Linked DNA regions of Homo sapiens: region 1 is linked to region 2. A link means that fine-mapping ties the variant in region 2 to the expression of a gene that starts in the linked region. Tissue or cell type: T cells. Region 2 holds a variant in brackets; the other region holds the start of a gene. All regions are shown on one strand. Distances are between the middles of the regions.

The links. PIP is the estimated chance that this variant, and not a neighbour inherited with it, causes the effect.
Region 1: it holds the start of ARHGAP5, and the variant in region 2 is fine-mapped to the expression of ARHGAP5 in T cells (TOPMed, PIP above 0.99). The same link has a PIP of 0.9 or more in blood mononuclear cells and whole blood.

The regions. Positions count from the first base shown.
Region 1 is chr14:32,076,028-32,078,784 of GRCh38, forward strand. It overlaps ARHGAP5 (Rho GTPase activating protein 5), which reads left to right and starts at 1,277. Exons shown (of 7, transcript NM_001030055.2): 1 at 1,277-1,408. It overlaps ARHGAP5-AS1 (ARHGAP5 antisense RNA 1 (head to head)), which reads right to left and starts at 672. Exons shown (of 1, transcript NR_027263.1): 1 at 1-672. RefSeq lists silencers at 698-957, 1,318-1,537, 1,336-1,630.
Region 2 is chr14:31,944,046-31,946,802 of GRCh38, forward strand. LINC02313 (long intergenic non-protein coding RNA 2313) reads left to right here and starts at 808. Exons shown (of 2, transcript NR_146544.1): 1 at 808-1,063. RefSeq lists an enhancer at 90-1,289. The variant C/A (reference allele first, on the strand shown) is at 1,135.

The sequences.
Region 1 (2,757 bases), 130 kb after region 2:
TGGTAGTGGCGTGAACAGGGGTCTTTTGGGCCACCCTGAGACCCGCCCCACGGGGCTTCTCGATCCACGTCTTGGCTTCTCGCTCCACTTTCACAGAACGTACTGAATCAGGGGCCTGCATCCCCGTGCCGTGCCGAGCCGACGGAGAAATGGACTCCTCTTCTCGCTCCTGTGGAGTTTCGTCTTCTGGGTGAGTGTGGCACCGGGTCCTGGGCGGGTGATGTCTGTAGTTGGCGAGCGATCCTCAGCCAGAAAACTGGCTGCGCACACAGGCGCAGACACGCGAACATGTTCCTGCGAACGAGCTTGGGCGCATGTTTTCCTCCCTTGCTTTCTTTAATGCTCAGAGACCATAAGGGGATTTATCGAGAAGCATTCGGTGCCCATGCCCGGTTTGGAACCGCGAGCACAATATCTGGTTCCTTTGCAGTACGGTGGTTTGCTCTTGAGTTACGACCAGAAACCGGAACAGAAGGAAAGGGAGAAGCAGGGGAGGTTCGGGGACGACGGCGCTCCGGGCAGTAAGGCAGTAGCTTCCAAAGCGTGGAGGATGGGACTGAGGAGGAGCAGAATACGGAGAAAGAGGGAAGCTGAGGAAAAATACTCACGCCAATGGGTAAAAGGGAAAAGGTGAGAAGGAATGGAGTAGGGGAGGGAACCAATGGTGGGAGAGGCGGAGGAAGAAGGGGGAGGGGTAGAAGCCAATGGGGGAGTGGAGGGGAGGGAGAAGCAGAGGGGAGGAGGGAGCGGGGACGCGAGCGAGGACGCGGCCCCGCGCGCTCGTCCCCCTCCCTCCGACTGGATAGCTCGCGCCTTCCCAGGCTCCCGGGAGACGAGGGCAGGGGCGGGGCCGTGCCGGGTGCGCGGCGCGGGAGGCGTCGCGAGGTGAAGGGGCGGGGACGGGGGATTGTGGGGAGGGCAGCGCGGGTTCGCGCGCGCGCGCGCGTCCCGTCCAGGCTGCGCCGCCGCGCCGCCGCTCCGCCCCCGGTCGGGTGTGTGGCTGCGCGCGCCGGGAGAGATGCTGAGGTAAAGTTCGGGAGAGAGGGAGAGAAATCCGTCAGCGCGAGGGAGCCCGAGTGGCCGCCATTACTGAGCCCGGCGCGGCGGCGGGCGCTGGGGAAGGGGGGAGGGACGGGCCGCCGCTGGTGGCGGGGAGGGAGGGAGGGAGGGTGGGTGAGCTGGCTGCGGGAGCCGTGGGGCTCAGGGTTTCGGGGCGTGTGTGTCGGGGAGGGCGGGGGGAGGTGGCTGAAGGGACGCGCCGCTCGGTGAGCGCGCCGAGGAAGAGAGGCGAGCGGAGAGTGGAGGAGGAGGCGGCGGCGGCGGGAGCGGTCCCCAGGAATGTCGCTGCCGCCGCCACCGCCGGGGCCGCTGCCGTTGAGGAGGAGACGGAGGAGACCGACGTTGTTAGGTAGGACCTTGCGGACCCCGCTCCTCCAAGCCTGCCTGCCCCCTCCCGGACGGGGACCCTCCTGCGGCTAGCTGCCCCGCTCGGTCGCCGCTGCCGGTTGTAACCAGTTGAAGGGGCTGGGGCCCCGCGGCCGCCGAGGGGAGCCTGGCGCTGCGCTCGGTTTTCGCAGGCCGGGCGGGCAGCAGCTGCAGCGTTAGGGATACGTTCGGCGTGAAGGGCAGAGAGGCCGGGGGAGGGGGTGCTTTCTCCACAGGTGACGGGGCCAGGGTCGGCGGAGGCCTGATGCTGGCCGGGGATCGCCGGCCCCGCCAGGCGTCCGCTCTCGCCCGCCGCCTCACTTGCTCGAGTCTCGGGTGGTCCGTCGAGAGGGGAGGTGGCGGTGTCCGTTGGCCGGGTTGCTGCTGTTAACGAGTTCCACCTGGAAAGGGTACACGGGGCGGGTGCAGATTCGCGGAAACACAGTCTCGGTTGCAAACTTAAACGCCTTGTAGGGGGGATCGGCCCTTTCACTTTCCCTCATCTCCTCGACTCCTCCCTGGGTTCTCTTCACCAATTTTCCATCTGCTTTGAAGCTTGGAGTAAGATATGAGAAGTTGCACTGCGCATCCAGAGCCCAGAGTCCTATGGGCTGACTGCGACTGGGTTGAGGCTTTGATACTGAGTTTTCGCTAGAATAACCTCCAGATTCTTCCTCTCTTTCCACTAAAGAAAAGTATCGGGGTGGGGGTGGGGAGCCGCGCGGGAGCGCGCGCGCACTTATCCACACAGAAATACTCCCTCTCACCCTCCCTCTTCAGCGTTATTAGAAATGCAAGAGAGCTGGAGGCTCGGGGTGTAGCTGAGGTTGAAAGGTGCACGGAAGTAAGGGCAAACTGTTATTAGGCCGTTTAGTAAAATCCCGAAAAAGTTGTAGGGGAGACGCTTATACTTCTACCATGTGATAGAAATTCGGATTTGGCCATCGCTTAATAAATGGGAATTCAAATATTTTGAGATAGAGCAAGATAGGCATATAGATGGGTTTGTGCTTACGTTTTAAGTTTAAATTCTTATCGATCATTTATTTTTTCCTTTGTGATAGGCAGGAAACTGAATTTTTTTTTAAATGTTCAGGTGTAAAACAGCAAAATGCTTCGCTGTATTTACTAGTACTTGCTTATGTTGCTTTCTACAGGTAGGGGCGGGGGGCGAGTTTGTCAATTCCACTTAAATCCAGAACCAGTATTCAGTTAGAATGTTAGGTGGTGTTTATCCGCATGAAGGATCTCGTTCACTTCATGGGAGCTTGCTCTACATTTCCACTTAAAATGGTTCTCCTAACAAAAATTTCATCTAGATGCAGCGATTAG
Region 2 (2,757 bases):
TTCCTCCGCTGGGCTGACGGAAATGGTTTGCAGCCAGACTGCTACGCCACGCGGTCTGGCATTTAGTCCTCAGAAATCTGATTTAGAGAACGTATACATTGCATCACAATCTAGATTTCAGAGGAAAGTTTTGGATAGAATAACCCAGACCCAAGTCTGGGTAATTTAAAGCCTGGGTGAAATGGGGCAGAAAGAGCCCAGAATATACAGGTCTGAATCTTGGCTGGGGTGATGTGGAAGACTGGAGGCGCCAGACGGCTGGCCTCCCTCCAAGTGTTTACCATGCTGGTGCCATGGGGCTGGGGCTGGGCAGTCCATGTGCTCATTCTTCCCTTCTCTTCTCCTCCTCCTCCCCCTCCATCTCTCCTCCTCCTCCTCATGTTTTCTATAGGCTAGAGAAACTCAGGAACTACTGACCCACAGGGAAGGCAAGCGGAGATATGAGACGGAGGAATCAAACGCTGCCCTGGTGGAGGACGCTGTGGGTTTACAGTGGATGATTTCCTCTGCCTATGAGATAAAAGGGCTGGCTCTGTACTTTGAACCCCAGCCTCACCCACCTCTGCCTGGGTGTGGCTCTTACTCTCTGGAAGACTTACTCAGGGGAGAGGACAGGACAGTGTGAGGCTTGAATCTCCAGGAAATAGAGTCTGTGGGCAGCCATTGACTCCGAGTCAATGAGAACAAGGTGTGCTGTTTCCTCTGTGCTGTTTCTTCCCTGCCCCACTCCCCGCCCCTTTGTCCTATGGTGCCCAGGCTGCCTGCACTGCCCAGATACCACAGGCCTTGCCAGGGACCTCCTGAGAGGTTTCTGAGGCTTGCAGCCAGTGGTCCCGTTAGTCTGCACGTCTCCGAGTTGCCCTCCCAGAGGAGAAAGCATATGCTGCTGGGACCGACTGCAGCTCCTCATGGATGCACCTGCCACCAGAAAATTGTTGTTCAGTCTGGGATTGCTTTCTCTTCCCAAAGCACAATCTCACATGCAGTCATGAGCCCAGTCCAGCCTCTGGGACAGAAGATTTCGTGCTTTTATAAACCAACAGCACTGCAGGTGCTGCACAAGGTAAGTGTCTCCCTTATTTCTTTCCCTCCCCGGAAGCCTCTGTATCAAACTAGGAGTTACCTTAATAGGGT[C/A]AAAGGAGGGTGTGGCTGTTTCACTTCCTGTTGTCAGCAGCCAAGTGTGCCTGAGGACAGAGGGTGGTGGGCAGGCATCCATTATGTGTAGGGAGGCAGGTATTGTACTGCTCTGGAACACACTGAGGAAGGGGGGTGCTCTGGCTTCCCTGACACCACCTCCCTGGTCAGGCTGCCGCAAGGCACCCAGATGTCAGTTGTCTTCCCACAACCTAATCATTCACAGCTGCTCCAGGGCCACACTTAGGATCTCTTTCCAGCGGTCCTCTTAGTCTGCCCCAGGGGCATGGCAAAGGAGGGCCTTTCATCCAGGGATCTCACACTCACAGAGACTTCACATTTGGATTTTTAAAAATTTATCTCTGAAGATATGCTAATAAGACTGAAAAGATGGAAATGATCATCAGCTTTAAACTTATGCCTGATTTTGGTACCAGGCCCATGAATTTTTAAGATTAATCCTGCCATTATCCCGTGAATAGGATGGTTATATTACCCTGTGCGTTTTTTTTTTAAAGCTTACACGTGTTAAAGCCTTAATTTATTAAATGTAAACTTCTAAAATATAGTATATCACAATTTTTGAAACCCTATTTGGGGATTTCTTCATTTTAATATACCTGAAGCCTCAGATAATGGGCGTGTCCCTGGTCTTTGTCCTCCAAGCGGCCCATTGGCCACTCCCCTCTTGATGGACTGTGGAGAGAAGCTGTTCCCTTTCCACGTGGTCATTTCAACTTCAGAAAAATCTCAGGTGCAATTGCCTGTTTCATTACAGCAGCTAGCCTATAATGAAAGAGGCCTTCGAAGCTTAGGCATGCCCAGTTTGGCCCCTTTCTTCATTTTACACACTGTTTTCTCCTCCCACAGGAAGGCTTCTCTCTACGGGGCTCAAAGCTACAGGCTCTCCACCATAGGGAAAATGGCCGACTAATATTCTTGAGTTCTTTACCCTTAGGCAATGGGGCTCAACTGTGACTGCACATTGGAATCAGTGGAGAGTTTTCCAAACATCCATCCGATGCCTGGGTTCTACCCCCACAGAACCTGATTTACTTGACCTGGGGTGTGGCCTGGGCATTGGAATTTTTTAAAGCACCCCACATGATTTTAATACACTACAAAGTTTCAGAAACAGTGCCCTAAGACCCTGGTTCTCAAACATTAGAATTCATCAGAATAATGTCCTCGTGGGGAGGGTCTTGTTAAAGCATAGATTGCTGGGCACAGTTTCTGATTCAGAGTTTCTGGATGGTACCTGGTAATCTGCATTTCTAATGAGTTCCCAGGTGATGCGATGCTGCTGTTCTGGGGATCATGTATTTACAACAGTTGTGCTAAAAGAAAGACAGTTAGAGTGGTGGGTTGGGAGGAGAAATGTGAGTGAATGCATGAAAATGTAGTTATTTCTTATTCTCAACCTCTGCAGTTGGCTTCAGAGTCAGGGACACCCCTAAATTACAGCAGTTACAGAGTATATTGGTCACCAAAGCTGCCACTGTGCAGAGACCCAAGCTAGGATAGAGCTGAGCCCCAGCAGCTGGACCCTGGTTGGTGGGGTAAGGCATGGTCTGAAACAGTCTGGGGCTACAGATCAGCTCTGTCCAGTGAGAATATAATACA